Regions from separate parts of the Homo sapiens genome. Here region 1 is linked to region 2. Evidence: fine-mapped expression QTL. A gene starts in region 2. The other region holds a variant in brackets. All regions are shown on one strand. Distances are between the middles of the regions. Region 1 overlaps CCDC88C (coiled-coil domain containing 88C). Region 2 holds the start of CCDC88C (coiled-coil domain containing 88C).

What was found. PIP is the estimated chance that this variant, and not a neighbour inherited with it, causes the effect.
Region 1: its variant is fine-mapped to the expression of CCDC88C in whole blood (TOPMed, PIP 0.96).

Annotation. Positions count from the first base shown.
Region 1 is chr14:91,371,029-91,376,391 of GRCh38, reverse strand. The region is part of intron 3 of CCDC88C (coiled-coil domain containing 88C); the gene reads left to right. LOC107984673 (a long non-coding RNA gene) reads right to left here. Exons shown (of 2, transcript XR_001750858.2): 2 at 2,141-3,756. Among named protein-coding and RNA genes, the nearest start is that of CCDC88C, 44 kb to the left of the region's middle. RefSeq lists enhancers at 219-891, 2,354-2,423, 4,027-4,639. The variant A/G (reference allele first, on the strand shown) is at 2,747.
Region 2 is chr14:91,415,522-91,420,829 of GRCh38, reverse strand. It overlaps CCDC88C (coiled-coil domain containing 88C), which reads left to right and starts at 3,010. Exons shown (of 30, transcript NM_001080414.4): 1 at 3,010-3,199; 2 at 3,992-4,092. The coding sequence starts at 3,140. CCDC88C-DT (CCDC88C divergent transcript) reads right to left here and starts at 2,584. Exons shown (of 3, transcript NR_184261.1): 1 at 2,490-2,584. It also overlaps the pseudogene LOC112268126. RefSeq lists enhancers at 1,595-1,644, 1,885-2,529, 4,135-4,424, 4,435-4,564, 4,955-5,084 and a silencer at 2,595-3,514.

The sequences.
Region 1 (5,363 bases), 44 kb after region 2:
GGGCTCACTAAACGCTTGTTGGGTGAGTGAATGAACACATGAGTGGATATAAAATCGAGGCAGTCATGAGTGTGCAAAGCGCAGAAGATGGCGACCAAGGTCAGGGAGCAGGAGCAGACAGCGCCCCCACCACCAGCCAGACATGCATATGCCCGGCGACGAGCACCTGGGTGTTTCAGGAGGCTCTGAGCTCACAGGAGAGAAGCCTGACCTATGATCGTCACCCTGTCCTGGGGGGCAGCAGCGGGAGTGACAAGTGTGGCCTTTCCTGGCTGCCACAGCCTAAAGGGTCCTCTGCGCCTGCCAGCTCCTCAGGTCTCCTCCGCAGATACATTTGGGCTGCTGGCTGTTGGCTGACTGGGTTCAAGCCTCTTCTCCTGTGAACTCGCGGGGCTGGAAGGTCTACGTTTCCAGCCCCAGCCTCGCCACTTGTAGTCATGTGACCCCAGGGCACATCCTTACTGTCTGTATCTCAGTTTATTCCTCTGTAAAATGGGCACAGTTACGGCACCTGCCCCATTGAACGCAAGAAGATGCATGCCTGCTGGAAAGGGTCAGATCAGAAGGAGACATTTGCCCCCCACTCGCCCTGAGGAGCCTCGCACAGGGAAGGTGCTCCGGGCACGGACAGGGTTGAGTCTCCCCTCATCTCGTGGCTTGGGCTGGAAGAGTCCACTTGCTGCCGAGGCAGGGCTGGCACAGACTGCCATCCTGCTTGGCTTGGCCATGGGAACAGCTGGTGAGGGTGCTTTTATTTGCCTGAAGTGTGGGCTCTCGGCCGGCCCTGCGGGGAAGCCAGAGCAGCTGGTCTGCCTCGTGAGCAGGTGCCGGGGCGGGTCTGTGCGCCTGCCCTTCCCTCCTTCCCCGAAAACGCTCTTTGATTCCGCTGCCCACCCCCCTCTTCCCCACCTCACCCACATCTGAAGAAAAGCTTCCCTACTTAAAGGAAAAAAGGAAGAATAAGCTTCATCTGATTTGATTTTTTTTGGAGTCCTCAGGTCGGAGCCTCACACAGCAGGGGTCCAGTTGGTCTAATTGAAGGGCATTGTTTCTGTCCCAGTCCTTTAGATTCAGGCTGTTCACACAGCCTGTCTCTCTCTCTCCCACATGCGCGCGCGCACACACACACACAGACACGCGCGCATGCTAACCCTGGGGCCTGTGGCCCTTCATTAGCTCATTTGGCAAATGATGGCTGAGCCCTGCTGTGTGCCAGGCCCTGGGAGAGCCCTGGGGAGCGAGACCGCCCAGATCACCACCCTCAGGAGCCCACAGCCCAAGAAGGAGACTCGAAGAGTAAGGCTGGTTTAGCAGAGGAAACTCAGTCTGTAGCTTCGTAACTAGTGAAGAGAGTTCCTGGTGTTTTGCCCACATCCCCTCGGCATGTTGTATACCACATACGTGTTACAGTGCCTGTCCCATTGGGCTCCGTAAGGGAGTGTCACCACATCTTCATTCCTGGCTCTGACAGGCACCATTGACCGATCTTGGCCCTCTTTGTCTCTGAGCCCAGATCTGGCCTCAGAATCCTTCTCAACACAGAACTCTAGGTAACCACTACCAGTCATCTGTGCCTGGAACCCAAGCTTAAACTACCCCTGGGATCACAGTGAGTTACTTGTGTGAGACTTCCTTGTGCCTCCTGAGGCTTCGGAATGAGCCTGACTGCAGAGACCACTGCAGATGCTGCCAGACTGTTGGAATGGCCTCAAAGGTCGGTTGGGCCACCCCAGGCTCTGTGCTCAGCAGGACTGCACGGCCTGTTCTGGCTGTAACCCCTTGCCCCTGGCTGTTCCCTCTGCCTGGGATTCTCCAGTTCCACCCGTCCACCTGGCTCACACCCTCCCTACACTCGCATTTTGTTCAGCTGACGATTCATCGAGGGCCCTCTTTGACCACCTGTCTGTAAGAGCTATGTTTTCTGTCACTTCCTCCTATGTTCCTTTATTTTGCTTCTTAACACACACATGTGACATATATTTACCTCTTTAGCCCTCTCATTTACTCCAATATTCCAAGCAATGAAAAATACCTATTGATCAAATGGACCTTGCATTAGCAGATACCTGGTGGACTTAACCCTGCTACTGCCTGCAAGAGTTAGGATGAGAGGTAATAGACACAGTGTGTCTAGCCAAGCTCCTGGTTTATGCAGCATGCTGATTTATTGCTGTTCGAAATAAAGTGTTCTTTACACTGTAGATGGGGGAGGGTGCGTTTAGTTGGAGGTCCCAAAAAGCCTCTGTTCTCACCAGAGCCTTCCTCCCCGCAGCCAGTTCCATTTAGCCAGCAGCTGGCAGGCATCTGCTGTGGGCCACACTGTGCAGAGCCCTGGGGGGATTCAGAGGTGAGCATGTTCCAGCATCTGCCCTGGGGACCCTGAGGATCTCAGTTCCCTGTGTGGGACTCAGGCAGGGACACGAGAGAGGGGCCTGGGGGCACTGATTGCTGAGGAAGTGATCATTGCCGGCGGAGGGGTTTGAGGAAGGCATTGGAGGCAAGTGTGGCTGGACAGAGAGGATTTTGTCAGGTGCGGGTGGGCAGGGGACCGGCTGGGCTGCCAGGTCACCTCCAACCCCTGCCCACCCCCCAACTTGGACAGCTGCTGCAAAGTTGATAACATCTTTTGAGATTTTCACTTCCTGCCGAGATATTAGTCATTAGAAACTTGTCACTTCTGAACCTTCCTCCTCCCCGGCTTTTCAACTGTGTCCCGATATGCCCTCCCCCAGTTTCCTGCTATAGA[A/G]TACATTCTTGGTGATAGAATAGAGAGTTTCTTGCTCTCTAGATGAAGTCTGATCTTTTGCTGCAAACTCCTGTAATGAAAAGAGACCAGTTTGCATGAAATGTCTGCTCTGCTGTCTGTTTCCTCCAGAAAGCTTTTTTGGAGGAGCGAGTGGGGGCTAAGGAGGGGTAATTACAGTCTTATTTATCCATGCTGGAGACTCATGGTTCCCATGTGTGTAGAATTTTTCCTTCTCTTCATCCTTTGCTATTTGACCAGCACAAGTTCTGCTTGGCCCCAGGCAGATGTCACTGATGAACCGTGGCACACTTGCTCCCAGGGCCAGACCTGCCCCTAGTGTTCTCAGCATAGCGTCCAAGCCAGCTCTCTTGAGTCCAGACCACCATAGGGCACTGGTATCGTGTGTGTTTTTCTTGGCCCTCCTGAGGCCAGAGGGAGAAGAGAGAAGGTGGCCCCAGCAGATGTCCCAGCTCAGTTCTTCCTCCTTGGTCCTGAGCCCAGGGGCTGGGGACGGTTTGTGCATTCCTGGGGATCTCTAGAATGGACCCCACTCCTCGCACACACAGGTAGCTGGGACTGTCTTCCTTTATGGGCTCACTGTGGTGACTGTGGCTTCCTGTGTTTGCCCCCTGCAGAGCTGCCCTGTGTTGAAGCAGGAGGGAGGATGGTGTGTCGCCCCGGAGCATGTTGAGAGCACAGTGCCCAGCAAAACCTGACGGCTAGGAAAGGCCTCAGGTTCAGCCAGCACCTCCGGGGGCCTGACTTCATGCCAGGCACAGGCTTGATTGTCGCTAGGTTAAGTGATGCCTGCCTGCCCGGCCACCTGCCTTTCTGGCCACCTGGCAGGGCTTGATGCCGAGGCCCAGCAGCAACGTGGTGGTGGAGCCGGCAGAGGGGACTCCAAAGCTGCTGCTGTCACCGTTTAGATAACGTGCAGACAGGGCTGGGTCCAGACTCCCTGAACGGTGGTTCTGTGCACATCTGGTTCTCAGTTGTCCTTCATCGTGGGACTGTAGCCAGAGACACAAGATGGGGGCACCTTCTGTGTCTTCCTTTTCCTTTATTCCTAGCCCTCCCTGCACTAACACACGCCTCCCCCCCCCGCCCGCCCCCCCCCGCACCACTGCCATCTACCTGGATGTCACCTGCTCCTTGTTCTTTCCCATTTCAGCTTCCGGCCACCTCCTTCTTGGAGCTTTTCTGGATTCCCCGCTCTCCTCTGCTCCCAGTGCCCCCAGCTCAGGTGCCTGCCATCCCTCTGTTAGGGTGCCAGACTTGCTGGTGGGATTTGCTGGTGGGATCAGGCTGTGAGCTCCCCAGGACAGGGCCTGGCCCTATAGCAAACACCCTGGGCCCCTCACTGTCCCCCATCCCACAGGCTTTGTCCTCCTTGTCTTTGTTTCCTGGCTTTGAGGGTAGCAGTCTTGGCTTCATACCCTCCACCTCCCAACTGGCATGCCATCAGACACCCAGCAGGTGCCCGGGAAGTGTGGCATAAATGAGAGAGGGAATGGCTGCCCTTCCTCAAGGAGCTCTCCCTGCCCTCCAGATGCCTGCCCTGGGACACTGGACAAGGAGGCCTGGTCACTCGGGAGTGCTGGTACCCCTTGTGCTGTGGTGCTCGTACCCTGAGGCCTGGGCTCAGGTTGGGGCGTGAGGTTGGGGGCTGGCTGCCCCCACTGCCTGCCTTTCCCACCCTCACAGGTCCCAGCAGGCTGGGGTGGTCTGGGCTGCCATCTACCGCTGGAGGCTCCTAGGTGCCCTCCACCATCCTGCTCCGACTTGTGCCTGGGAGTGAAGCGGCATTGTCAGGCCACCGGGTGAGGGCTGCCAGGGTGTGGCGTGGCCCCAGCCCTGCCCTGGCATAGGTGCCTGTGGGCCTGGGTGGGTGAGCGGTGGAGTGGGACATGGGACACTGTGTGGGCAGGCGCCACGTTCCCCCAGCCCAGCTACTTGCTGGGACGAGGAAGGCCTTGCTTCTGCTGAGCTAGGGAGGGTGTGCCCAGGACAGATAGGTGCCTGCCCAGGAAATCAGCTAGAGCCACCCCTGACTGGAGGGTGTGGGAGGCAGTCTTGGTCCCAGTCTGTGACTCCACAGGCTCCTCGGGACCAAGACTGTGGTCTTGGTCTGTGCTGTACTCCTGCCACCGCCGGCCTCTGTACTCCTGCCACCGGCGGGTGAGGTTGGCTGGGCCTGGACAGCACATGGCTCCTCCCATGGGACCACTACACTCATTCTGGCTGGGGGGGTCATGCCTGTCCCAGCCCACCCTGCATGCATACCGTAGTTTCCTCTGGCCACACTTTCTCTGCCCCTTTCTTGCTTATCCATCAGCAGAACTACTGACTTTTCCATCCATCAGCAAAAATACTGACTTTGCCAAGAAGCTTAAAAAAAAAAAGTACTCTACCACCATGAAGTCACAGTCATACGATCCCTCACGGCCATAAAATCAGGGCCCTTATATCAACTCCAAGCACTGGAGCACCGATGCTGTCGTTTTAGCCAGGAGGGGTGGACTTAGGGACAGAGGAAAGGGCAGCCCAGAACTGCTGCAGGTGCTGTCCTGTGGGGAAAGGGTCCTGCTCTCTCCATCCTTAGCCTAATCCTTGAAGT
Region 2 (5,308 bases):
AAACATTCCTGACATGGCTGTGGCCCAGGGCCTTGTCAATGTCCCCAGGGGAAAATTCCCTCACCAGGATGGGAAAAGTCTCACAACTGTCAGAAGGCATTTGTCCACTGTATTTCTTAGTGTGAAAGAATAAGCTTACTCAATAAATTTTTTTTTTTGAGACAGAGTCTTGCTCTGTCACCCAGGCTGGAGTGCAATGGTGCAATAGCAGCTCACTGCAACCTTCCCCTCCCGGGTTCGAGTGATTCTCAGCCTCCAGAGTAGCTGGGATCACAGGTGTGCACCACCACACCCAGCTAATTTTTCTATTTTTTTTGGCCAGGCTGGTCTTGAACTCTTGGGCTGAAGTGATCCACCTACTTAGGCCTCCCAAAGTGCTGGGATTACAGGTGTGAGGCACTGCACCCGGCCTCAATAAATAACTTTAAAGATTCCTCATCCTTGTCTTTCCAAAAAAATTGGAAAAACAACTTTGGCCGCATCTGCATCCCTTACTTTTCAGAAGAGAGGCTTCCGAGCGAAGAGCGGTGTGTGTACACATCATACCTATTTTTGAACTAACTTACATTATGAGCAATTAAGGAACTTTTTTAAATAAAAGATTTTTAGCCGGGCGCGGTGGCTCACGCCTGTAATCCCAGCACTTTGGGAGGCCGAGGCAGGCGGATCACGAGGTCAGGAGATAGAGACCATCCTGGCTAACACGGTGAAACCCCGTCTCTAGTAAAAAATACAAAAAATTAGCCGGGCGTGGTGGTGGGCGCCTGCAGTCCCAACTACTCTGGAGGCTGAGGCAGGAGAATGGCGCGAACCCGGGAGGCGGAGTTGCAGTGAGCAGAGAGCACGCCACTGCACTCCAGCCTGGGCAACAGAGTGAGACTCTGTTGTCTCAAAAAAAAAAAAAAAAAAAAAAAAGAGAAAAGAAAAAAAGATTTTTATTTCAGATAAAATTAATATTTCCATAATTAGGATACACACATAATTAGCAAACACACATTCTTGAGTCCATTATTTAAGGTTTATTCTATAAACGACTTCCATGAGTATTAGAGATCCTGAATGTCATCTGAATATTTGTCTACACACTTGTGGGCAGCTTCTGTAGACTTTTCTTTGTAGAAATTCCAGTTTTTCTGAATTCTTCCTTTTCCTTCAGGTTTTCCACTTTGCATTATTCATAAAAGGCTGGGTCATTATAGTGAGCTGTTAAGACATTCTTTCAATGCAGAATTTTCTTTCCAGCATTTTACTACCATAAGGATTCCAGAGTTCTTGCAACATTTGGTAAAATCTTGAACTTGTCAGAAGACCTCTCTCTGGCCTTTTCTCTCATTATTTTAGGGATCAAAACATCTTTTTCGACACGTCTGAGCTGCTGCTCCAAAAACCTGTAGTGTCTTCCCATTGTTTTTGGTATAAAAATCAAACTCCTTGAAATGGTTTACAGGACATTTCATGATTCACAACTGAAACTCCTCCACAGCGATGGCACACACTCCTCTTTGATCTCAATTCTTCTTTCTTGTGGTCTTTGCTTAAACCACTGTTCTTTAAATTTCACAGAGCAACCATCAGAGTTGTTAAATTAATCCGCGGGGTCGAGTGCCATCGCGGCGGGCGGAGAAGCAATTAAGGAACTTCTCTAATGAACTTCTGGTGCACAACAAAACCATGTAGTCTCGAAATTTTAGTTCCTCCGCAGTCCCCCATTGTGTTTTATGCTACCCCGCCTTCCACAGTCTCTAGGGACCCCTAACCGACCCCCTTGGCTCTCAGGCCATAATCTCACAACCCTCCCCAGCCCAACGGGGTCCGCCAGCGCTGGGCTGTAATACCACTCGCCACCAGCAGATGCCGCAGCCCCAACGCTGCACAGAGCCAACTTTCAAAATTACCACCGAGCCTGTCGGCAGCCATTTAGTGCCTGCTGTATACTTGCCAAGCGCCACGCAGGGCCCTTCGGGTCAACCCTGTACCAGTTGGCCCAGCTGCGAAATGCGGCGATCGTTAGGGTTAAATTAGTAAAATGGTCTACAGTGCTTTGAACAATGACCGGCTGGTGGTGTGAAATTATTACCAGGCCGAGACCAGCCTGGAGCCGGCTCCTGCCTCGTGCCGTCCCGCAAGGAGGTCCTGCCCCCGGGCTTGCCTTCCAGCCAGTTGGGGCCTTTGCCCTTTTTCCTGTCGCCTGCCACTAAGCTGCTGCTAGGAACCCCGGCTGGAATTTAGCTCGCCTCCGGCAAAGTGGTGGGGGCGGGCCCGGGTCGGGGAGGCCACATCACCTGCTTCCTGCAGGAACTTTTAGAAGGCAGGCAGCCCGGAACATGGCACGGTGGGGCACGGTAGGGCGCGAGGGGCCGCGCCCCTAAGGCCTAAACTCAACATAAAGTTTCTTCTTTGCCCTCCAGCCCAGCCCCAGGGTCGGGGCGCGTTTATCGCGCCGCGCACAAGCGTGAGGAGCGGGGGTTTGCGGGGCCTCTTGACTGTACCTGGGGCTGCACCTGCCAGGAGTGCGGAAAGGCGCAGGGCCGAGGTCCCCAAGCCCAGAGCGGGCGGCAGCTGCGGGCGACCTCGGAGGGCAGAGCAACCTCGGAGGGCAGGGCGTCCCCGCTCCCGGCACGCACCAGTGCCCGCGCACCCCAGCTCGCACGTGGCGCTCGGGCCCCGGCTGCACGCGCACGCGCGCAGGGATGCGCCACGTGCTGGGGCCCCACACGCGGGGAGGCTGCGCTCGGCGAGGGCGCGCGGTCCCACGGGCGGGGAGCCGGGCCCCGCGACCCACCCGCCTCGGGCCACCAGTCCCCTCCCAGCGCCCCGCGTAGCCTGGTCCCGCGCCCGGGCTCCCGGGCTCCCGGGCTGGCACCGCGAGGCGGCGCGCCGGTCGCCCAGGGCCGCCGAGGGGCGGGGCCGCCCGTATTGTTCCTCCCCGAGCGGCTGGCCCTCCCCTTCCCCCAGACCCGGGCGGGGCGCGGGGCCGCCGAAGCCGCGGAACGTGGGCTCGCGCGCCCCGCCTTTGTCTCCCGGGCGCGAGCCGCCGCAGCCCCGCGCCCGCTGCTCGCTGCGGAGCCGTTTTGTGCCGCGGCGCGGGGGAACGGGGACGCGGGGCGGGGGGCGCGGAGCCGGCGGGCGCAGCCTCAGCATGGACGTGACAGTCTCGGAGCTCCTGGAGCTCTTCCTGCAGAGCCCGCTGGTGACCTGGGTGAGTGCGCCTGGCTCCCCGCCCCTTTGTTGGTGCACCGGCTTCTCTCTAGCCCGGCGACGGGACGCCGCAGACCCGACACGGCCGGGGCCCCGGGTGGCTCCGGGGCGCGAGGGACGCAGCAAGTGGCTCCCGGCCGGGGTTGGGGCCGCGTCCTGGAGTCCGGAGCTTTGTAACTCTGGAGCCGGCGCCCCCGTTGTGCGTCCGGCGCGGGACCCCGCCGCGCTTTCGGCCGGGCCAGGAGCCGGGCGGGTACACCTGTTCCCGCTGGGGCTCTAGGCTGGCTGCCTCGGGGCGGACCGGGTCCCAGTGGTCACTCCTGTCCCTGGGGTTTAGCCACTCCCGAAAAGGACCCCATTCTTCCCAACCAAATATCTCATGTAGTTTTTCTGAATCCCTGAGACCAGCCGGTGGATGGCGGTGACGGGTGGGGAATGGGGGGCGCCGAATGGGAAAGCGAACAGACTGGGGTGGGCGCACTGATTTACAATGGATTTGAGACGTGAGACATTTATTGAAAAGTCCTTTTTATTTTTATTTCTTCCGCTCTGGAACGCGGGAGAAAAGTGGCGAGGAAGTTTTTCCTCCTGTCTCGTGTCTGTTGCCCCGCGCGGGGAGGGGAGACAGGCCCTAGGAGAAGGCCGGGCTTGGTGCCTGCTGAAGGGTGGTGTGGGCGTGGGTGACCCCCTTCTGCTCACACTGACCCGTCCAGTCTCTGCCTGGGAGAGCTTTGGACCGTTTGTGCGCACGGGGTGACTTCCTGTCTTTCTCTCCTCGTCCCCCTCCCCGCAGGTGAAAACTTTTGGCCCGTTTGGAAGCGGCAGCCAGGACAACCTGACTATGTACATGGATTTAGTGGACGGCATCTTTTTGAACCAAATTATGCTGCAAATGTAAGTTACCTTCTTCTCGGAGGAAGGAAAGAATGGTGCGTTAGAAAGTTTGAGAGTAGAAATGGAGTGGAAGGTTGCATGGCGGGGTGTGTGTGGGGTGGGGGGTAGTTCTCTGAAGGTGGAGACGCTGGTATCTCAGTATTAACGTGCCTGTTGGACATTCGTAGGTGTTTGAAGAACTCCAGGACAGTGGGTCTGGCAGTTGGTTTGATGAAGGAAATTTGGAATTGAATGACTGTCATTTACGTGGTGTAGATAGTGCAATTGACTTCAGACTCAAGGACTTAATTGTGGTTTGAGCAATGAAATGAAAAAGTCCCCTTTTGGAGGGCAAGGAACTGTAACGGAGAGTGTCTGGTTACAGGAAGTGTCGGGGTGGGCCCAGGCATCCGAGGGTTACTGTAAAGTTTCATTTTAGATGAGGGTGTCTGTGTTTCTGAGCTCCTTTACATTTCATCTTCCTTTTTCAGTTGCCCCAAAGCAAGTGCAATTCATTAAGTCCTACTGTATGGACTGAGTTTAAAGTCACAGTGTTAGGAGGGTCCCATGGTGCTGTTTGTTTGGAAGCATGCAGCCTGAACAGGGTCTTAGTAGAAGTTACTCTTGCCAGCGAGTACATCTGACCACATCCTTTCCTGTTGCTGAGCTCTGCACGGCCTGATTGACAGCTTGCCACAACGTAGGTGTTGGCTTCTACCTTTGCATTCTGTTTTTAACTCAAACTGCAGGGAACATTGGAACTGAGTGTCGGGATGATTCACAGGCACTTGAAGCAAAATAAAACATCCTAATGTTCTCTGTGGATCAGCCTCGTGTGCGCACCTATTCACCTACGACTGAGCAAGTTGTCATACTGGAGCATAAATCTATTAGCTAATGAGAGATCAGCTTCGTTTGTGGCTCACAAAGGCAGAGGAGCAGTTTGCTTTGGCATATCCAGAAAGTGGCTTATATAGATTGCCTTAAACAGCCTGTTTAGAAAAAAATAATTCAAGAACCTTGCTTTTTTTTTTTTTGGAGACGGAGTTTCGCTCTTGTTGCCCAGGCTGGAGTGCAATGGCGTGATCTCAGCTCACCACAACCTCCGCCTCCCGGGTTCAAGCGATTATCCTACCTCAGCCTCCCGAGTAGCTGGGATTGCAGGCATGCGCCACCACGCCCGGCTAATTTTGTATTTTTAGTAGAAATGGGGTTTCTCCATGTTAGGCTGGTCTCG